7 linked regions of the Homo sapiens genome follow. The protein of the gene in region 1 purifies or fractionates together with the protein of each later gene. This does not show direct contact. Each region holds a gene or a part of one and is shown in the gene's direction. Other genes may lie near its edges. The genes, in order: NSDHL, ESF1, STRIP2, AKAP12, POMT1, EXOC1 and ATP2A2.

The links.
Region 2: the proteins of NSDHL (region 1) and ESF1 fractionate together in Homo sapiens (co-fractionation; one large-scale study listed by BioGRID). This does not show direct contact.
Region 3: the proteins of NSDHL (region 1) and STRIP2 purify together in Homo sapiens (co-immunoprecipitation; one large-scale study listed by IntAct). This does not show direct contact.
Region 4: the proteins of NSDHL (region 1) and AKAP12 purify together in Homo sapiens (affinity purification with mass spectrometry; one large-scale study listed by BioGRID and IntAct). This does not show direct contact.
Region 5: the proteins of NSDHL (region 1) and POMT1 purify together in Homo sapiens (affinity purification with mass spectrometry; one large-scale study listed by BioGRID and IntAct). This does not show direct contact.
Region 6: the proteins of NSDHL (region 1) and EXOC1 purify together in Homo sapiens (co-immunoprecipitation; one large-scale study listed by IntAct). This does not show direct contact.
Region 7: the proteins of NSDHL (region 1) and ATP2A2 purify together in Homo sapiens (affinity purification with mass spectrometry; one large-scale study listed by BioGRID and IntAct). This does not show direct contact.

The regions. Positions count from the first base shown.
Region 1 is NC_000023.11:152,862,063-152,865,562, forward strand, and holds part of NSDHL (sterol-4-alpha-carboxylate 3-dehydrogenase, decarboxylating), read left to right. Parts: intron 1-533; coding exon 534-662; intron 663-3,500. UniProt on the Homo sapiens protein: Catalyzes the NAD(P)(+)-dependent oxidative decarboxylation of the C4 methyl groups of 4-alpha-carboxysterols in post-squalene cholesterol biosynthesis. Also plays a role in the regulation of the endocytic trafficking of EGFR.
Region 2 is NC_000020.11:13,778,420-13,781,919, reverse strand, and holds part of ESF1 (ESF1 homolog), read left to right. Parts: intron 1-3,500. UniProt on the Homo sapiens protein: May constitute a novel regulatory system for basal transcription. Negatively regulates ABT1.
Region 3 is NC_000007.14:129,437,432-129,440,931, forward strand, and holds part of STRIP2 (striatin-interacting protein 2), read left to right. Parts: intron 1-2,590; coding exon 2,591-2,660; intron 2,661-3,500. UniProt on the Homo sapiens protein: Plays a role in the regulation of cell morphology and cytoskeletal organization. Required in the control of cell shape. Calmodulin-binding scaffolding protein which is the center of the striatin-interacting phosphatase and kinase (STRIPAK) complexes.
Region 4 is NC_000006.12:151,347,967-151,351,466, forward strand, and holds part of AKAP12 (A-kinase anchor protein 12), read left to right. Parts: intron 1-744; coding exon 745-3,500. UniProt on the Homo sapiens protein: Anchoring protein that mediates the subcellular compartmentation of protein kinase A (PKA) and protein kinase C (PKC).
Region 5 is NC_000009.12:131,519,918-131,522,108, forward strand, and holds part of POMT1 (protein O-mannosyl-transferase 1), read left to right. Parts: intron 1-162; coding exon 163-276; intron 277-1,428; coding exon 1,429-1,555; intron 1,556-2,129; coding exon 2,130-2,191. UniProt on the Homo sapiens protein: Transfers mannosyl residues to the hydroxyl group of serine or threonine residues. Coexpression of both POMT1 and POMT2 is necessary for enzyme activity, expression of either POMT1 or POMT2 alone is insufficient.
Region 6 is NC_000004.12:55,898,648-55,902,116, forward strand, and holds part of EXOC1 (exocyst complex component 1), read left to right. Parts: intron 1-1,037; coding exon 1,038-1,237; intron 1,238-2,187; exon of another isoform or gene 2,188-2,507; intron 2,508-3,469.
Region 7 is NC_000012.12:110,347,247-110,349,419, forward strand, and holds part of ATP2A2 (sarcoplasmic/endoplasmic reticulum calcium ATPase 2), read left to right. Parts: 3' UTR 1-146; coding exon of another isoform or gene 147-166; 3' UTR 167-2,173.

The DNA.
Region 1 (3,500 bases):
ACCAGCAGGCTGGACGCTGGGGACCCTCATAAGAGAATATCTTCCTTTAGAATAGCATTTCTTAAGAGGTCGTGTGGTGTGTGTATTCCTATGTGTGTTCACATGGCCAGGTCACTATCAGAATAGCCAGTGATCTTTTTCAGACATCTTCCTAGAAGTTTGCGGGCTGCCCTTCACTTACAACAGAGAATCGCTGTCATAGTGAGATACCATGAATGCAAGTCTATTCTATCTCTCAGGTGTGATGGGATAGAAAAAATGTGTTATCCCTTGTTTTGAAACCAAGATCTCTTGATTCTTGGTTAGAATGTAATACATAGTGTGTCTGGAATCCACATAGCTGCAAAAGATGGTGATCTTTGGATTATTTTAAGAAGGCATGAAAAGCAAAGGCATTGCAGCAAATAATTTCTTCAGTGCCTCGAATGCGAGGGCAACAAAGGGATGCCCCTGATTCTCTTTCATACAGGATCATGCACTGTTTGAATTGTGATAATTTGTGACTTTTATTTTTTCTGACCTTCCTCTGTCAGAAACTCATTTTAACCAGCAGTGCCAGTGTCATCTTTGAGGGCGTCGATATCAAGAATGGAACTGAAGACCTTCCCTATGCCATGAAACCCATTGACTACTACACAGAGACTAAGATCTTACAGGAGAGGGTATGTACCTTGGAACTGGTTGAGTGAGCAGACTGAAGGGTTTAGAATCCTAAGAAAAATGTTTATGAACTTATGAAGTTTGTATTCTGAGGCCTACGTACCTGATTTGAGATGTAAAATTTGTGGGTGAAATTAAATTTAAAAATACTGTGAGAGGCCGGGCACGGTGGCTCACGCTTATAATCCCAGCACTTTGGGAGGCCGAGGTGGGTGGATCACCTGAGGTCAGGAGTTCGAGACCAGCCTGGCCAACATGGCGAAACCCCATCTCTACTAAAAATACAAAAATTAGCCCAGCATGGTGGCAGGCGCCTGTAATCCTAGCCACTTGGGAGGCTGAGGTATGAGAATTGCTTGAACCTGGGAGGCGGAGGTTGCAGTGAGCCGAGATTGTGCCATTGCACTCCAGCCTGGGGGATAGAGAGAGAGAGACGCTGTCTCCCAAAAAAAAAAAAGTTACTATGAGAACAGCTTTATGTGGCCAGACACTGTTCTGAGTGTTTTCCAGGAGTATTTTCCTTGTTTAAAGGTCACAATTATCGCATCATCACCAGATTATAGATGAAGACTGTGGTGCACAGATGCACAGAGAGGCTCAGAACCTTTCTAAAACTGTGCAGCTAGGAGGTGGCTGACCCCAGGCAGTCTGTCTACAGAGCTTACAGCCCACCCTCAATGCCATGGGAGCTTCCTCGCCTGCTATGGGAATTTACAGCAGTTGCAAGCGTGCAGACAGGAATCAGGCTGGAGGCACCTTCCTAGTGGCACTCTCACCCCCTCCCTTACTTAGAAAAACAAACAACGGAAGGATCTTGCTTTATTTTAAGGAAAAAGTACTTTTCCACTTGGCAAAACAGCTTCATCAAAGGGCACCTGATTTTAGTATGGTTGGATTCAGCCACGGTCGCTACCAAGCCTTCAGGCTGCTGGGGCTGTGGGGCCCCTGACAACTGCTAGCTGCAGATGGGGATTGTCACCCTGAGGCCATCCTAAGCTGCAGGCCAGGAGTGCTCCTGAGCCTGGGATAGCTCGTCTTAGCTGGGTAGCTGTGAGTATACCCCTCCCAGGTGTGTGCAGTGTATCACACCCACTGAGGTTTTCTCGCAAAGCCGGTACATGCTGTACTGGAGCTGAACACTGACCTGGCTACCTGAGAGCCAGCTGCCTCCTGGCTGTTTGCCGTATTTTTTTTTTTTTTCTTTTTTGAGATGGATTCTCACTCTGTTGCCCAGGCTGGAGTGCAGTGGCACGATCTCGGCTCACTGCAACCTCCACCTCCCAGGTTCAAGCGATTCTCCTGCCTCAGCCTCCTGAGTAGCTGGGATTACAGGCGCGTGCCACCATGCCCGGCTAATTTTTGTATTTTTAGTAGAGACGGGGTTTCACCGTGTTGGTCGGATGGTCTCGAACTCCTGACCTCATGATCTGCCCGCCTTGGCCTCTCAAAGTGCTGGGATTACAGGCGTGAGCCACCATGCCCAGCCTGTCTGCTGTTGCTTCAGCTCAGAAAGTCCTGGCAGAACTGGTCCACAGGGAGACACAAGGGCCACCCAGACCAGGGGTGGAGGCTTGAACTTTGGCAAGCCACAGTCCTGGCTCCAGACTATGCTGTCTTGCTCCTTGGAGCACTCATGTGCTCGAACTTGGCCCAAGGAGTACTAAAGCCTCCCTGCGCCTTGCAGGCAGTTCAGTCACCATGGAGACCCTGTGTATTCTCAACCCAATATGCCTGATACTGATTGCCACCAGAGCTGAGCCCATCTAGGCTCAGGAGCTTCAAATGATGGCCTTGGCCCAGACCATCAGTGTCTCGCTTATATCAACTTTTGGGTTCTCAACTGGAAATAAGCAAAGCCTGCAGATGACTCCAGCAGTAACTCACCGGAAGCCTCCTTTCAGCCGAGGTTGACATCCACTGTTGGCTTTATAACCTTCCTACTGATCATAAACCAAATGTGATGGGGAGCTAGGACTCCTTCACCTCTCTTCCCTTTAGTAGTAGAGATGAGCCTTGGTGGAAGCCATTTGAGGGTTTATTTAGTCATTTCCTCCATCGCTGTGGGGACCAGAGTCCTGGCGGGAAGAGGAGGGCCAGCTCTGGGAATCTGTTGAGAGGCAGCTTTTCCATTGTTGAGTTGCTTAAGATCACTGGGGCCAAAACATAGACCAGCACTTTGCTACCATAGAGTAGAAGAAACCCGAGGTGACATGACAGCAGGAACCGTACTTACCAAGCATACAGACACGCACTGAAGCAACTCACATGGGCCATCTCGTGTAATTCGCATGCAGCCCCGTCAGGGTAGGTACCTTTATGATCACCACTTTTACCCACGATAAAACAAATCCTTTGGAAAGTTTTGTTACTTTTGAGGCGAAACCCATTTCACTGTGCTTTAGACTCTTGAGTTCTAGTTTGTCCATGAAGTCACACAGAAGTCACCCTTTCCTTGCGGTGGCAACAGGAGCACTGGCTCTGGACCAGGCACTGCTCTGAGGACTTTACATGTCTCGGCCTCCTTTGCCCCCCAGCTGCTGGCCTGTTTCTCCCCAGGCATGGTCTTCAGACCCTTCACCTTCTCTGACCCTCTTCTGGGCCCACTTGGGTTTCTCAGAGCCCTCCCCTCGGAGGTGATACTCAGAATTGCCTGGAACAGACCCGGCCTGGTGGAAACGTGGGCGGCACATGCAGTTCAAGTCACTGGAGGCTCACGGCTAACTTGTTTGCCAGAACCTTTGGACGTTTTCCACAAACTGCTGCCGAGGCATGTCTTCTGGCAGTGTTGGTGGATTTTAGCCTTTGAACGCAAACCAGGGCCTTCTGATTTGATCTTACCA
Region 2 (3,500 bases), on another chromosome or scaffold:
GGCTGACAGAGCGAGACTCTGTCTCAAAAGTAAAATAAAATAAATAGGGTAAGTAGGACTCCGTCTCAAAAATAAAATAAGAGGGTAAGTAGAGTTGAGTACTCATTCATTAATTTGTTCAGTTGCTTTGCCACTAGTATGTGGCAGGCAGAATATGAGTAAGGCGTCGTCACCCATCTCAGGGCTGTCGCTAGCTTATATGATGCCTTTATGCAAATTAGAAAAAGGCATGCTCTCTGGACACACAGAGCTCCCAGGGGTCACACTTTGGTGAAGAGATGGCGCCTTTGAAGCAACAGATTTTTTGCCCCTGAGCAGACACAGCCCCCTCCAGAGTGCATGGCTTGGTGAGTGTAGGATGGCCTTGATTTTAGCCCTTCTTGTCCTTTTATAAATGCCCCTGTGCGGATAACAGCCTGCTAAACTTTGTGCAGTGGCCCCTGTCTAAAGCAACATTGTCTAGTAGAAATACATAATTTTGGATTTTCTAGTAACCACATTAAAAAGTAAGATGAAACAGGTAAAATTATTTTAAATAATATATTTTATGTAACCCAATATATCAAAATTATTTCAATATGTAATCAATATAAAAGTCAATGTATATTTTACATCCCATTTTCTACTCATTTCATACTAATACTATTTTCATATTAATGTCAAGTTAGACAAAACGCATTTCAAGTGCTCCGTTACCACATGTGACTACTGGCTACCATATTGGACAATATAGATCTAAAGTAGAAGAAAGTCAGAACCATAATACAAAATGCAATAATAGTAAGTGCCGTAAAAGATGTTTAGCAGAAAGCCATGGAAATCTGGAGGAAGAAGTCACTCAAGATGTGGTAATCAGAAAAATTCATAGGGGACGCACTACTTTGGGGTGTGGAAAAATTTAAGTTTGAGGACCAGAGTGTGCTACATGGAAAGAACTTTTTGAGCAAAGATGTGATTGGGCATGTTCAGAAGAGGTCAGTAGTCCCGTTTGATTAGATAATAAGGTCTTGAAGGGCCAAAATGAGTAGCAGCGAGAAATGATTGTTTGGAACTAGGTGAGAGACAGCTGGCTCTAGTTTGCATTACGTGTTTACTAATTAAAATTTTTTGTCACCTCCAGCAGCAAGCAATTTTGAGTGTTGATGTTGCTGATAGTTGAAGATGTAACTGAAAACCAGTAGTAGTTCACATGAGCCAGACCTGTGATTACAGGATCCAAGGAGGGGTCTTGATAGGCCGAGAGGTCTTGATAGGCCAAGAGGTCTTGATAGCCCAAGAGTTCTTGATAGGCCAAGAGGTTTTGATAGGCCAAGAGGTCTTGATAAGCAGAGATCACACTGTGAGGGTAGAAGGTATCAGGCAGTGGAGTGAATTCTGGATAGCAAGGACTAGGGAGTCAGTGGTGGTATCCCATTTTACATTTGTAGTGGAACCAGGCAGCAGACCTCTTGAGGTGTGGGAAGAAAGGATAGGAATCCGGTTACTAAAATTGAAGAATAAGATTGGAGTGGGACCGGCAGCAAAGTTGATTTGACACTGAATTAGTGAGGTAAGTTAGTCTAGCATCCACTTCATTTGGGGCACTGAATTAATATAACATAGCTATATAATCCTTTAGATTGATTTTACAGACTTTTTTACATATCTTTTCTCATTTAATTTTCTTAGTTACCTTGAGCAATAAGACTGTATCAGCGAACAAGATTAAAGTGACTTATGTAAGGACATGCAGACCTGGAACTGCAACTCAAGTCTTCTGACTCCTTCTACCCCACCACATTGCTTGCAGTAATTTTGTTGGTTCCACAGTCTAGGAAAGGCATTACTCATAAATAAGGATTACACGGCTCCATATATAATCTTCTGTTCATTATCCATTCATCAGTTATTACAGCAATTACTGTGTGCAAGGGCCTTTTTAAGTGCTGTGAAGTAAAGGTGATGTGAGGACTTGCAGTGTGATATTTGTCATCATGAAATGTTCATGCCCAGCACTTGCACTCCTCAGAATCTATTTTACATAAATAATTGGATGTGTGCAAAGAATGTGCATTGCAGCATTATTTTTAAAATAAAACGGTAACTGGCTGGGCACAGTGGCTCACCTTTATAATCCCAGCACTTTGGGAGACCGAGGCGGGTGGATTGCTTGAGGTCAGGAGTTTGAGACCAGCCTAGCCAACATGGCAAAACCCGGTCTCTACTAAAAATACAAAAATTAGCTGGGCATAGTGGTGCACACCTGTAATCCCAGCTACTTGGGAGGCTGAGGCACGAGAATCACTTGAACCCAGGAGGTAGAGGTTGCAGTGAGCCAAGATCGTGCCACTGCACTCCAGCCTGGGCAACAGAGCAAGACCTTGTCTCAAAAAATGAAAATAGAAATTAAAATGGTAACAAATCATTAAGAGATTAATTAAATATATGCAAACATCTGTGATCTATGAAGTTTTAAAAATAGGTTCCAAAATAACGATATGACCAGTTATTTTAAACAAATTAGTATTTAAATTAAAGAAAAGAAATTTAGGGATATGGTTGTATACTAAAATAACCAGTTATCTTTGAATGAAAAATTACTGCTAGTCACCTTTGTTTTATTTATTAACCATATTTTCCTAACTTTTTTTGGTTTGTAATGATCATTCATTATGTTTATAATTGGGGGAAAATGGTAAAGCAGTTTTTTTGGTTTTTTTTTGTTTTTTGTTTGAAGTAGCTGGATAAGTAGTAATGTTTACAGTCACTACTAGAGCAATACTGTCTAGGAATAGAGACATTTATATTTGTGTAACCCCACATTATCTTGCACAAGGCTGTGTACATTGTGGGCTCTAAGCAGATACTTTTTGGGGTTTTTTATTTTTATTTTTGGAGACAGGGTCTCGCTCTGCTGCCCAGGCTGGAGTGCAGTGGTGCAATCACAGCTCACTGCAGCCGCAACTTCCTGGGCCCAGGTGATTCTCCCACCTCAGCCTTCCGAGTCACTGGGACCACAGGTGCACCCCACCATGCCTAGCTAATTTTTGTATTTTTGTAGAGACAAAGAGTTTTGCCATGTTGCCCAGGCTTGTCTCAAACTCCTGGGCTCAAGATCCTCCCATCTTGGCCTCCTAATATGATGGGATTACAGGCGTGAGCAGCTGTGCTCGGCTGCAGATACTTATTGAATGAATAAATACTCTGAATGCAGTTGATATTGTTAAAAACATTGAAATGGAAGACCTCTTTAAGTCTCTTATGCAACACTTTATTATTATATAACCCAAAGTGTGGTATGTGTACCATTGTCATAAGTGAGAAGATTTTTGATGATACTCAAACTTCTAAAATATTAATAGTTATGTACTGTGTCAACATCTTAGAAAACAATGTAATTACCCTATCACTTCTGTGACTTTAGGAATATTGTTTAGAGCAAAACTAACTTTTAAAAAATTCAATTTAATAAAAAAATGATATTCAAAAATCATGAAAATGGTATAATGACTGACAGTTGA
Region 3 (3,500 bases), on another chromosome or scaffold:
TCTTAAAAAAAAAAAGAAAAGAAAGAGAATAATAGAAAATATCACTGCATCACATGCAGTAAAGGTAAATATTTTGTTAAACTTTTGTTCCAGTTTGTGTGTGTGTGTGTGTGTGCTGGGACGTAATGTAAAAGGTATCATTTTTCCAAAAAGTTTGAAAAACAATTTTTAATGGCTGTTCTTTATTCTGAGATTCTGTCTTTCATTTTTTGAATTTTTTAAAGTTTTTAAAGTCCTTACCTATCAGAATAAAACAGCAACAACCCTATGTCATTTGCCACTCTCCACCTTTTTCTTTTTCCCTACTGTTCCTTTTAATCCAAAAGTTTGGAAATCTTTGCTATAGTGGATTAAAACATGATTCGCCTTGTTTTTTTTTGTTTTTTTTTTTTTTGACAGAGTCTCACTCTGTCACCCAGGCTGGAGTGCAGTGGCGCAAACTCGGCTCACTGCAAGCTCTGCCTCCCGGGTTCACGCCATTCTCCTGCCTCAGCCTCCCGAGTAGCTGGGACTACAGGCGTCCGCCACCATGCTCGGCTAATTTTTTGTATTTTTAGTGGAGACGGGGTTTCACCGTGTTAGCCAGGATGGTCTCGATCTCCTGACCTCGTAATCCGCCCACCTCGGCCTCCCAAAGTGTTGGGATTACAGGCGTGAGCCACTGCGCCCGGCCAATTTGCTTTGTTGACAGTATAAATTGGCATAATGTTTTGGGGGAGCAACTTATATACAAAGAGACTTTAAAATGTTCATAAGATTTGATTCATTAATTTTCTTTATAAAAATCTATGCTTAGGAAATATCCTAAATATAGAAAAAAGTGTAAGTCTATTACAGTTTGTTGCATATAATAAAGGAAAATTAAAAACCATTTAAATATTCAATAAGGAACTAGTTAAGTAAACAAATAAATGTACATCCATTTATACAACCATTTAAACTAATAGTCATAATAATGTGAGAAGAATGCCTTTATAGTATAATATTAAAATCATAGAGTGACCACTCACATAGTGCTACGAAGTGCTAGGCCGTGTGCCTTTCCTATATTAACTCATTTAGTCCTTAAAATAACCCTATGAAGTAAGTCCTGTTATTATCCTCATTTTACAGATGGGAAAACTGAGCAGGTCATTTTCCAACAATTCGCTGACACCAACTGGATGTCCTACAGTTCAATTCGATTCTGACACTAACTACCTAGAATTAGCACAGACCCCCAAGTTAAGGGCTCAGTCCTACAAGGCCCTACGTTAGACACCAGCCATAGGTGGGATCCCCAAGCTATCTACACTTCAGCCTGGCCAACTACAAATTAAGCGGTTATCATGATCTTCCTTTCAGGTTCCATAATTTGCTAGAATAACTCACAGGATTCAGGAAAGCATGTACTTAGAATTATAATTTTATTATAAAGGATATGACTCAGAAACAGCTAAATGGAAGAGATGCGAAGGACGAAGTATGGGTTTGGGGTGATGCAGAGTTTCCTTATCTTCCCTGGGCAGCACTCTCCTAGCACATCTGTTTGTTCCCCAACCCAAAAGCTGCCTGAACCTAGTTGTTTCTGGGTTTTCCTATGGTGTTTCATTACCTAGACATAATTAAACTATTGGCCACATGACTGAACTTAATCTGTAGTACCCCTCCCCTCCCTGGATGTGGGGGTGGTGCTGAAAGTTAAACCCTCTAATCATGTGCTCCGTCTTTCCTAACATAAGTCACCTCATGAGCATAAATTCTGGTAAAGCTGACAGTGACTCATTATGAATAACTGACACTCCTATCACTCAGGAACTTCTAAGAGTTTCAGGAGCTCTGTACCAGGAACCAGGGGCAAAGAACAGTATATTTTTTATGTCACGCTGAGGCACAGAGAGGTTAACTTGTCCAAGATCAAATAGTATGTGACAGAGCTGAGATTGAAAATTTTAAAAATTCATATGTATGAACATATACAGGAAGGAAATATCCCAAAATGTTTAAGTTAGAAGATGGGATTATATTAAAACATATTTACTAGGATTATAAATTTATACATACAACGTCATGGGAAATGTAATCTTTACTACAACTTGGAGTGGAGATGTTGCATCATTTGACAATCCTAAAGTTGCAGAATATTAGAGCTAAAGAACCTCTTTAAAAATAAGGAACTATGATCCACAGCATGAGACTTGATCTATATCATACAGTGGGTTGATGACAGAACTGAAGCTAGAATCCAGTTCTCTTTGTTTCTGTCTGTCTCAATTTTATATAAATCAGCTAGATGCTCCTCTGGTCTGTGTTCATGTAGATTAGATATGGACACAGACCATAGCTTTCATATATGTTTGAGATCCTGGCCCTTTATTCAGACTTTCCGATTTTGTATAGGAATCCTCAGCCCCTCCCCACACTGAGACTCAAGTTTTGGCTTGGCGTAGGGTACCTCTGAGATGAAAGACCCAAATAGGACTCTCCTAACTGTCTCCCTGATCTAACCTTGGCCTCCATGAGGGGAAGAAGATAAATAAGGGTACAGTCTTCCCTTGGCAACCCCTTTTTCCAAGTTATCCCAGTTACCAACAAAATTTCTCTGTTACAGGGCTCTGTGGACTGTCCCACTCTGGAGTTTGAGTATGGAGATGCAGATGGGCATGCAGCCGAGTTGTCAGGTATGAGGTAGATGGGTCAGTAGCTAGTGGAAGAATGGCCAGGAGGAGAGGGAAGGGGCCTGTGATCTCCCTGGAAGCTTGTCTGTTCTCACCAAGTGGCTGTTGAACAAAGGCTGTTCTCCACATTCCTTTTCCTCTCCATCCAAGTGGTAAATATCTCTTTGTTTGTCTTCACATTTCCTTCTGTGATTCTCCTTGGCTATGGTATTCTTCATTCTGTCATTCTATCACTCTTTCCTGCTCACTCTTCTTTATTCTCTTTGAAAATAACTGATTTGGTGCACTCTCAAATCAGTTTTCTCTCCATCTTCTCCATATTCCTTCTCTTTTTCTCTTCCTGTCACCCATATCTTTGCCTGCCTACTTCTTTCTGCTGCCCTCTTTCTATCCCATGCCATCTCTTTTTCCTTTGTCTCCTCTACCTCCATCTTTTCCTTCTTCCTCTCGCAACTGCCCCTTATTAAAATCTCAGCAAAGTCCGAGGAAAAACTATAGTCAACTGGCCAGCTGAGCAAGGCTGGACATGTCACCTGCATCCATCATAGTAGAGTTCTGCTTGGATGTTTATGAGCTGGGGTTAAGTAATTCCATTCTTCTTTCAGTGCTGGCCTGCTTGTCTCTGTCTGGATTTTTAGCTTAGGGTAAATGTGATCTCCTCACATTAAGGGCCTCCATGTTACATGTGCTATGAATGCCAGTTATTAATAAACAAGCTTTGGGTGGAGATGTGTGAAATTTAAATATTCTGTCACATGGAAGTGATACTTTGAGGCATGCTTTTTCAGAGAAAAGAGACAAACAATTTTAAAGACGTTCTTGTGCATGAGCACAGAGAATAAA
Region 4 (3,500 bases), on another chromosome or scaffold:
CGAGACCATTCTGGCTAACACGGTGAAACCCCGTCTCTATACTAAAAATACAAAAAAAAAAAAATTAGCCTCCCTACTCGGGAGGCTGAGACAGGAGAATGGCGTGAACCCAGGAGGCGGAGCTTGCAGTGAGCCACGATCGTGCCTCTGCACTCCAGCCTGGGTGACAGAGTGAGACTCCATCTCAAAAAAAACAAACAAAAAAAACAAATTAGCTGGGCATGGTGACAGACGCCTGTAATCCCAGCTAATCAGGAGGCTGAGGTGGGAGAATCACTTGAACCTAGGACAGAGGTTGCAGTGAACCGAGATCGTGCCACTGTGCTCCAGCCTGGGCGACAGAGTGAGACTCTGTCTCAAAAAAAAAAAAAAAAAAAGTTAATTTTCTTGGGCTAGGCACTATAGCTCACACTTGTAATCCCACTGCTTTGAGAAGCTGAGACAGGAGGGTCACTTGAGCCCAGCAGTTGGAGAGCAGCCTGGACAACATAGTGAGATCTCATCTCTACAGAAAATAAAAAACTTAGCTGGACATGGTGGCATGTGCCTGTAGTCCCAGCTACTCGGGATGCTGAGGTGGGAGGATTCCTTGAGCCTGGGAGGTTGAGGCTGCAGTGAGCCGAGACCACACCACTGCCCTCCAGCCGGGGCAAGAGAGTGAGGCCCTGTCGGAGAAAAACAATTTTCTTGTATTGTAATCACCTTTTCTCTTCTCCCCACCCCCCCGCCCCTTTTTGTTAATAGTTGGACAGAGAGACTCTGAAGATGTGAGCAAAAGAGACTCCGATAAAGAGATGGCTACTAAGTCAGCGGTTGTTCACGACATCACAGATGATGGGCAGGAGGAGACACCCGAAATAATCGAACAGATTCCTTCTTCAGAAAGCAATTTAGAAGAGCTAACACAACCCACTGAGTCCCAGGCTAATGATATTGGATTTAAGAAGGTGTTTAAGTTTGTTGGCTTTAAATTCACTGTGAAAAAGGATAAGACAGAGAAGCCTGACACTGTCCAGCTACTCACTGTGAAGAAAGATGAAGGGGAGGGAGCAGCAGGGGCTGGCGACCACAAGGACCCCAGCCTTGGGGCTGGAGAAGCAGCATCCAAAGAAAGCGAACCCAAACAATCTACAGAGAAACCCGAAGAGACCCTGAAGCGTGAGCAAAGCCACGCAGAAATTTCTCCCCCAGCCGAATCTGGCCAAGCAGTGGAGGAATGCAAAGAGGAAGGAGAAGAGAAACAAGAAAAAGAACCTAGCAAGTCTGCAGAATCTCCGACTAGTCCCGTGACCAGTGAAACAGGATCAACCTTCAAAAAATTCTTCACTCAAGGTTGGGCCGGCTGGCGCAAAAAGACCAGTTTCAGGAAGCCGAAGGAGGATGAAGTGGAAGCTTCAGAGAAGAAAAAGGAACAAGAGCCAGAAAAAGTAGACACAGAAGAAGACGGAAAGGCAGAGGTTGCCTCCGAGAAACTGACCGCCTCCGAGCAAGCCCACCCACAGGAGCCGGCAGAAAGTGCCCACGAGCCCCGGTTATCAGCTGAATATGAGAAAGTTGAGCTGCCCTCAGAGGAGCAAGTCAGTGGCTCGCAGGGACCTTCTGAAGAGAAACCTGCTCCGTTGGCGACAGAAGTGTTTGATGAGAAAATAGAAGTCCACCAAGAAGAGGTTGTGGCCGAAGTCCACGTCAGCACCGTGGAGGAGAGAACCGAAGAGCAGAAAACGGAGGTGGAAGAAACAGCAGGGTCTGTGCCAGCTGAAGAATTGGTTGAAATGGATGCAGAACCTCAGGAAGCTGAACCTGCCAAGGAGCTGGTGAAGCTCAAAGAAACGTGTGTTTCCGGAGAGGACCCTACACAGGGAGCTGACCTCAGTCCTGATGAGAAGGTGCTGTCCAAACCCCCCGAAGGCGTTGTGAGTGAGGTGGAAATGCTGTCATCACAGGAGAGAATGAAGGTGCAGGGAAGTCCACTAAAGAAGCTTTTTACCAGCACTGGCTTAAAAAAGCTTTCTGGAAAGAAACAGAAAGGGAAAAGAGGAGGAGGAGACGAGGAATCAGGGGAGCACACTCAGGTTCCAGCCGATTCTCCGGACAGCCAGGAGGAGCAAAAGGGCGAGAGCTCTGCCTCATCCCCTGAGGAGCCCGAGGAGATCACGTGTCTGGAAAAGGGCTTAGCCGAGGTGCAGCAGGATGGGGAAGCTGAAGAAGGAGCTACTTCCGATGGAGAGAAAAAAAGAGAAGGTGTCACTCCCTGGGCATCATTCAAAAAGATGGTGACGCCCAAGAAGCGTGTTAGACGGCCTTCGGAAAGTGATAAAGAAGATGAGCTGGACAAGGTCAAGAGCGCTACCTTGTCTTCCACCGAGAGCACAGCCTCTGAAATGCAAGAAGAAATGAAAGGGAGCGTGGAAGAGCCAAAGCCGGAAGAACCAAAGCGCAAGGTGGATACCTCAGTATCTTGGGAAGCTTTAATTTGTGTGGGATCATCCAAGAAAAGAGCAAGGAGAGGGTCCTCTTCTGATGAGGAAGGGGGACCAAAAGCAATGGGAGGAGACCACCAGAAAGCTGATGAGGCCGGAAAAGACAAAGAGACGGGGACAGACGGGATCCTTGCTGGTTCCCAAGAACATGATCCAGGGCAGGGAAGTTCCTCCCCGGAGCAAGCTGGAAGCCCTACCGAAGGGGAGGGCGTTTCCACCTGGGAGTCATTTAAAAGGTTAGTCACGCCAAGAAAAAAATCAAAGTCCAAGCTGGAAGAGAAAAGCGAAGACTCCATAGCTGGGTCTGGTGTAGAACATTCCACTCCAGACACTGAACCCGGTAAAGAAGAATCCTGGGTCTCAATCAAGAAGTTTATTCCTGGACGAAGGAAGAAAAGGCCAGATGGGAAACAAGAACAAGCCCCTGTTGAAGACGCAGGGCCAACAGGGGCCAACGAAGATGACTCTGATGTCCCGGCCGTGGTCCCTCTGTCTGAGTATGATGCTGTAGAAAGGGAGAAAATGGAGGCACAGCAAGCCCAAAAAAGCGCAGAGCAGCCCGAGCAGAAGGCAGCCACTGAGGTGTCCAAGGAGCTCAGCGAGAGTCAGGTTCATATGATGGCAGCAGCTGTCGCTGACGGGACGAGGGCAGCTACCATTATTGAAGAAAGGTCTCCTTCTTGGATATCTGCTTCAGTGACAGAACCTCTTGAACAAGTAGAAGCTGAAGCCGCACTGTTAACTGAGGAGGTATTGGAAAGAGAAGTAATTGCAGAAGAAGAACCCCCCACGGTTACTGAACCTCTGCCAGAGAACAGAGAGGCCCGGGGCGACACGGTCGTTAGTGAGGCGGAATTGACCCCCGAAGCTGTGACAGCTGCAGAAACTGCAGGGCCATTGGGTGCCGAAGAAGGAACCGAAGCATCTGCTGCTGAAGAGACCACAGAAATGGTGTCAGCAGTCTCCCAGTTAACCGACTCCCCAGACACCACAGAGGAGGCCACTCCGGTGCAGGAGGTG
Region 5 (2,191 bases), on another chromosome or scaffold:
GGAATCCAGGTTCTCATCATGCTGCCTCCGATGCATGATCCGAATGAACTTGAGCTGGGCCAGTCCACGTGCAAGGGGCAGCAGTGTACTCCTTTGACCAAATCCACGCACAGCGGGAGGCATCCCCCATCCTCAATCTCAGAGGCCTCTGCTTTGTTCCAGTGGAGGATGCTGGCGCTGAGAAGTGATGACTCGGAACACAAGTACAGCTCCAGCCCACTGGAGTGGGTCACCCTGGACACCAATATTGCCTACTGGCTGCACCCCAGGACCAGCGTAAGCGAGCGATGCTGACAGCTGACAGTCATAGATTCATCCTGTTTCTTGAGAATTCCTTGCATTAAGAGCAGCCGCTGCACCCTAGAAAGTGCTGGGTTTCTCCCAAGCTTTTCCTGACAAAGGCCTGTGACTTGGTTTTCTCTAAACGCTTTGGCAACCTGGAGCCAGGAGTAGGGGTGTGGCATGTGTGCCTGTTGAAGGAAACCCGGCTTGATTGCTTTTGTGGAGACACATTGTTCCCCTTTTCCTGGCGAAAGTGGTTTTAAGATATTCCCATTCAATTTTCCGTGTGGCACCTGGTGGTGGAGCTTACCGGTGCTTTGCTGATGTGCGTGCCGTCTCTCCACCCGGCAGAGTGAAAGCATTGGTAGGCCGGGCGCACAGTCAGCGCCCCATAAATATTCACTGAATGGGCAGACGCTGGAAATGCCCACCTTTTTCCTCCTCCCTCAGAGGCGGGTAGGTCGGCTCAGCATGTGCACTGAAGGCAGAGGCTCAGGCCCAGAGGCCGCCCCACCCCGAGCTCTGAGCGCACTTTGCATTCTCCTCCGTGGACAGCGCTGCTGTTACAAAGTGGAGTCATCTGCTCCCAATTTTCAGTTTCCAATTACAAAATTGAGAGCATCAGTGCTGTGTGTGTGTGTGTATGTGAGAGAGAAAGAGAGAGACGGAGTCTTGCTCTGTCATCCAGGCTGGAGTACAGTGGCGTGATCTTGGCTCACTGCAACCTCCACCTCCCAGGTTCAAGCAGTTCTCCTGCCTCAGCCTCCAAGTAGCTGGTATTACAGGTGCCCACCGCAATGCCCAGCTAATTTTTGTACTTTTTAATAGAGACGGGGTTTCGCCACGTTGGGCAGGCTGGTCTCAAACTCCTGACTTCAGGTGATCTGCCCACCTCAGCTTCCCAAAGTGCTGGGATTACAGGCATGTGCCACCACACCCGGCTGGCATCAGTGCTTTTAATGAAAGGTCTGAGTAGGAGCAGACCTGTCCACAGTAGTAGTAAGGCCTAGTGGATGCTAGGCTGTGCCTGGCGTTTTTTCACTCTGCTAAAGTAGTGCGTGCATCTGAATTCCTTTCCTGTGTTCTCTTCTCTTCCCTCCCTGAGCAGAGGGCAGGTGGCTAACAGCATCTCCCATGTTCCCTTAGGCTCAGATCCACCTACTTGGAAACATAGTGATCTGGGTTTCGGGCAGCCTCGCTCTGGCCATCTACGCCCTGCTGTCCTTGTGGTACCTGCTCCGACGGCGAAGAAATGTCCATGACCTCCCTCAGGGTTAGTACCTCTCCCACATGGCTTTCTTTCTTTTTAATATAGACATGGGGTCTTGCTGTGTTGTCCAGGGTGTTCTTGAACTCCTGGGCTTAAGCGATCCTCCTGCCTCGGCCTCCCATAGTGCTAGGATTACAGGTGTGCGCTGAGCATTCACCGCCTCAAGTGACAAACCGACTTCATAGGAACCTACCCCTTAACGCGGCCTCTTTGTTTCTGTATTGTGGAATCTTAAATTATGTTTGTCTCCCAAGAGACAAAATGTTAAGTTCCCATGTTGCGTTAGAGGTGTCTCCAGTCGAGTGCAGCGTATTGGGCAGGAATTGCCCTCTTGGTCCCATGTTGCCCGTATGCGCTGGAAATGGCTGGGTAACACAGGCAGCCAGGCCGGGCGCGGTGGCTTACACCTGTAATCCCAGCACTTTGGGAGGCCAAAGTGAGGGAGTCACCTGAGGCCAGGAGTTCAAAACCAGCCTGGGCAACATAGTAAGAACCCTCTCTCTAAAAAAGCAAAAGAGAGAGAAGACCCGGCCTGTGGGAGCAGCAGAGTCGGTGTAGCTCGAGCCCTTTCCTATAGATGCCTGGCTGCGCTGGGTGCTGGCTGGGGCGCTGTGTGCCGGTGGCTGGGCAGTGAACTAC
Region 6 (3,469 bases), on another chromosome or scaffold:
CCTCTCTTCTATATATGGGCATATTGTATGTGTGCTTTCTTTAATATAAAAGTGTTGTCATACCTGACACACTATTTTTGAAGCTGCTGGACTCTATATAATCTTAGTATCTTTCTTAGTTAGTTAATATAGATAAACATAATCATTTTTAATGATTGCATAGTCATCCATATGTCATTATCCATTTACCAAATCTTCTATTAATAAACATTTAGGATTTTTTTAGTTTATCTATCTTTGTATACTTGTCAAATAATTTCTTTAGGGTAAATTACTAGAAATGGAATTACTGGGTCAAAGGATTTATGTATCTCAAGTCTTTTCCCAAATTGTGATACAGAAAGCTTATGTCAGTTTAGTGCTATGAGCAGTTGCATTACAGCTGTACCAATGCTGGGTTTTACTAGGTATTACCAATCTTTTTATTCTTTGTCAACCTGATAGGCTATAAATTATCTCACTATTTTATTTTGCATTTCATTGATTTTGTATATGGTGTCTTTACTTTACATGAATTTTCAAATTTTATCTCCAATTTATTTATCTTTCCCCTTAACAGTCTTCTAAATTTTGGGCCATTCTTAGCAAGGTCACACTATTGCAAAATTATTATTTTTCTATTAGTTATATTTTCTTTAGTACTTATGATTGTATTATTTGTTTGCTTTTTACATTTTAAATAATTTAGCAATTTAGAATTTGACTGCAAGATGTAAAGTAGGAACTTAAATTTCATATATTAAAATGGTCCAGCCGGTTGTCCTAACACATTTTGAATAATTCATCATTTCTCCATTGATCTGAAAAGCTACTTTTATTATATACTGAATTTCCATATACACATGGGACTGTTTTAGGATGACTTTTTATTATGATTAGGTAGATCTGAAGACTCCCATTACAATATATTGTATTAAGTCCAGAAATGTGCTTAATTCTTAAACTTACAAATGAAAAAAAATTAATAGTATAAATGTTTATAGCTAAATATGGTCATACTCAGAGATGTTATTTTATTTTTTCTGTTTTGGTTTTAGTGGAGAAAGTAGCAAATGAAAGCCAGAAGACCCCCAGGGATGTGGTTATGATGGAAAACTTTCACCATATTTTTGCAACTCTTTCTCGATTGAAAATCTCATGTCTAGAAGCAGAAAAAAAAGAAGCCAAACAAAAATACACAGATCACCTTCAGTCTTATGTCATTTACTCTTTAGGACAACCTCTTGAAAAACTAAATGTAAATATATTTTCATTCAGTATTTTTCCTACTTTTGAACCTATACACATAAGTTTGCATATGAATAACCTGCAGACATTTATCTTAAATTTTCTCATGTGTTGGTGCACAGGGGACTCAGTTATTGAAGCTGCCAGTGTGCCAGACACTGCTAGATGCTATATATTTTATTTCTTCTTTCTGTACATTATTTTTATACATTATTTATCTACTATATTTTAATGATAATTGTACTAGTATTCTATTATGCATTATTTCTTTTAATTCTTATAAACAATGATGTGTAAGCTAAGATAATATTATCCCCATTTCACAAATGAAGAAACTGAAAGTAAAAAAACTTGCCCGACATCATAATAGCTTATAAATTACAAAGCTGGGGGATGAACCTAGATTAGGCTTTGCCGTTACTCTTTCCCATTTCTTACTTTATAAATGACCAAGTTTACAATGTCTAGGTGGAAATTTCAAAAATATTATTAAGATAAAAGAAAAACCAAAAATTGCTTTCTACATTGCCTTTTACTTTTCTTTCCCTTCTTTTTTTTTCCTTACTTGAGTCATTTCCCAGAGTAAGTCTGTTAATTAAAGTTAAGAAATGATGATTTTAGGGAACTTTACAAGATAGTGAAAGCTTAAATGAACCTTTTAAACTAACTTTGTCTGCAATATAGTTATCTTTTATAAGCTCTTAACTTGAAGTTAGAGTAAAATAGCGCGGTGACTCACACCTGTAATCCCAGCACTTTGGGAGGCCAAGGCAGGCGGATCACGAGGTCAGAAGATCGAGACCATCCTAGCTAACAAGGTGAAACCCCGTCTTTACTAAAAATGTAAAAAAAAATTAACTGGGCGTGGTGGCACGCTCCTGTAGTCCTAGCTACTTGGGAGGCTGAGGCAGGAGAATCACTTGATCCTAGGAGGTGGTGGTTGCAATGAGTGGAGATCACACCACTGCGCTCCAGCCTGGGCGACAGAGCAAGACTCAGTCTCAAAACAAAACAAAAAAAAAGAATATGTATCTGCTGTCAACAATTCAAAGAAATACTTGAAAGACATTTAATCAAATGCAGAACTAATTCCTTATAAAACTTAAGAACAGACAAATATTCCTTTAACTGGATAAAAGATCTATCTCAGGCCTAAAGCTTACATGATACTTAACTGCAACGTTAGAGACATTCCCTCTGAAATCAATTTAAAGCAGAAATATTGTTAGATCCTTTATTATTTAGCATTGTTGTTGAAGCACTAGCCAGTTCAACAAGACCTGAAACATAAATAAGAGATATGGAAAACAGAGACGAGATTATCACCACCTGTATATGATATGTTGAAATTACTGGTGTTGGTCAAGTGACAAAATTTAAAGCAAATATACTGAAAAACAATGTATTTCCTGTCTACCAATTAAGAGCTTATGTAAAAACAAAATTTTTAAAGCACTAAGAATAACTTCTCAAAGAATGATAATTTAATGAATAATCACTAAGAAAATTTTAGAAAAAAGTAATGAGAGGGAATGGGGTTTGTCAGCATTAATTCTTTGTATCGTGCTCAAATACAGTTATGCCAGTCAATAAAAGTATATATATAAAAGAAGACCTGGGAATAATAGTTACAATAATATAACAGAGTCAGTATATTTAATATAAAAAATCTTACTAAAATCAATAAGAAAAGCACTAAGACCCCAATTTATAAATGGGGCAAGGGGCTGAATCACTACTAAACATATAAAAGCAGGTTAACCTTATTTATAGCCAAAGAATTATAAAATAAAATGACAAACTTTTTTTACTCTGGCAACTATTGTTATAAATTGTCATAATGCTTATGATGGTATAGTGAAGTAGCAACCTCATACACTGTTGACAGAAATATAAATTGGTTGAGCTTTCCTAGGAAGCAGTTTGTATATATACTGAAGAATCTTTCAAATACTTAAAGTTATGCTCTTCAACAGAGTAATTATAGTCCTGGAAATTTAATCAGTAAGATGGGTAAATACTTATATACAAAAAAAATTTATGACAAATATATTTATAGTAGATTTTCTAAAGTCTCACTAGATTTGCCAAGTCCAAAAAAAGAAGGGGGAGTGGGATGTTAAATATCTAGTACTAGAGGAATGAATAATAATTGTGGTTCAGTCATTGTGTGAAATATTATGCAGCCATTAAAATTTATATTTAGGAAAAAACAATATTAAATGTAAAGTGGGACATGAAA
Region 7 (2,173 bases), on another chromosome or scaffold:
TTTGCCAACATTGCCTATTTCAGTGGCACGTCATCTAGTTTTAAAAAAATAAAACATTTTAAATGGACAGAGAAAAATAACTGTCTTGTCTTTAACTCGTAAGTGGCTTACCTGGGACTAACAGACATGTCCAACTTTCTCTCCAGTTCTTAGCTCAGAACTTTAGTTGTACTCTGCTTGAGGGGAAGAAGGCTCCTGCTCTGCTGTGTAGGTAGTCATAGGAATTGTATTCTTAATGTACAGGCACTAATTGTCATCTGTGATGTACATTTTATGCAAGTTTCTGCTGGCCTGGTATAGAGAACATAAGGGCAAGTGTGTATGTGTGTGTATGTGTGTGTTTTGTAAAATCTGTAAATAGCACATGACCAAATGAACATATTGTATAGAACTATTTTTATTTGAATGTGGCACTAACCACCACCACCGTTACTACGATCAATGTTTGCGCATGTTCGAGATGAGTCTCACCAACAGTGTGTAAGTCATTAACAGTCCTAACTGTGGTGTTTTCCTCCAATGCCTTCCAACATCCATCAACTAACGTGAGTATTTTCTTCCTGGGATTTGGATGCTTTAGCCTAAAGGTGACTGCCACCAAGTGAGATAACTGTATGTCACTAACTTATAAGCCGCCTCCATGGCAGATGCTGCTGTGCTCCCTGATGCCCTGTGAGCACCGGGGTTGCCTGTGGCGCCTGCCATGTGACTCGGGCGCAGCATCAGCTGGCTGGAGGTGTGGCTTTCATAGACCTCCACAGGCTGCCTAGGACAAGATGACCAGGAGGGCCCAAGCCAGACAAAAGCCGGAGTGGGGAGAGAGGCATTTCAGCCAGACCAACAGGCTGAAGGAGCTGTGCAGACTATTGCTAAAATGAGGGTTCGCAGCTGCCAGGAGTCATCCCAGAACATTGCTACTTATTTATTAAAAAGCTAAAAACTAGTGAAAGCAAGTAACTGAACCAGTGAACTCTGGGTATCGATAGGTTCGTCTTAAATAGGCCACTTCCCCACTCCCCCACCCCCCCTTGCTTGGTCTTGTCCTTGGTGGCTAAGACTTAGCTCTGCAGGGGATGTTAAAGCACAGTTAGTAGGACGTGGCTCTGCACAGCCCAAAAACCAGCTTACTCCTTAGCCAGGGTGTGAGGCCTCGACTATATTCTTCAAAATGTACTTAGGCTCTGGTTACTGGGATGGCCAGTAGATGTAATGCAGATGGTTGGAGTTTGGGGAGGGTTAGGAGGCATCAAGCAGGACAAGGTGCTGCTGAGTTCAGAGGGCCCACGTTCAAGGGATGGAGGTGGAACCTGGAGACCGACTCTTAAAAGCACAGTCCGTGGTTGGGTGTGGTGGCTCATGCCTGTAAGTAAGTCTCAGCCCTTTGGAGGCCACAGCAGAAGGATTGCTTGAGCCCAGGTACTCAAACCAGCCTGGGCAACAGAGTGAGGCCCTGTCAAAAAAAAATCAGCCTTACTGTGAAGCCTCCAAGGCTGCTCGCAGGCAGCTGTGGCTCTCGGGAAGGGAGGCTGCTTTGCCCAGCAGGGAACATTTGGGGCAGGGGGTAAATTTTGCCAGTTTGAGCATCATGAGGTGTAACAAGAAATGGGTTGAATGGGCCAAATGCAAGGAGTGCATCTCTGGGCTGCAAACTGACTTGAGTGCTGCACTATTGCTATTCCGTGCAAACAAAACTCAGCTTTTCCTGACTCAGTTCCTTGACTTAGTGGCCTTTACAAAAAAAGTTGAGTAGTGTGTGGCCTGCTGTCGCACAGCCCCTAGTTAGCTTCATGGTTTCTCAGCTTCAGACCCCTCCAGCCCACAGAGGAGCCCATGGAGGGACCCACTTCCCTTGGTCCAGACAGCTGGGAGTGGGTTAGGCCCACTGCTGTTTTGAGCAGGGCCACTTGCTCCATTTCACTGAAGGCTTTGCTGGGTGAAAACACTTCAGCATCTCCTCCTCAGGTCAACCCATAAAGACCAGGTCCAGCACCGTGGTCTTGGCACATCCCTGGCCTCAGGCCCTCACCTAACAGTGAGGCAGCAGCTGCCCAGCCCCGCAATGTGCCTGCTGTCAGGCAGCTCTTGCCTGAAACTTACTTCCACATTCTTTCCTGATGGGCAGGTGGCTGAAGGCCCAGCCATCAGTGTCGCTTGTTGCCACCCCGTGCCTCCC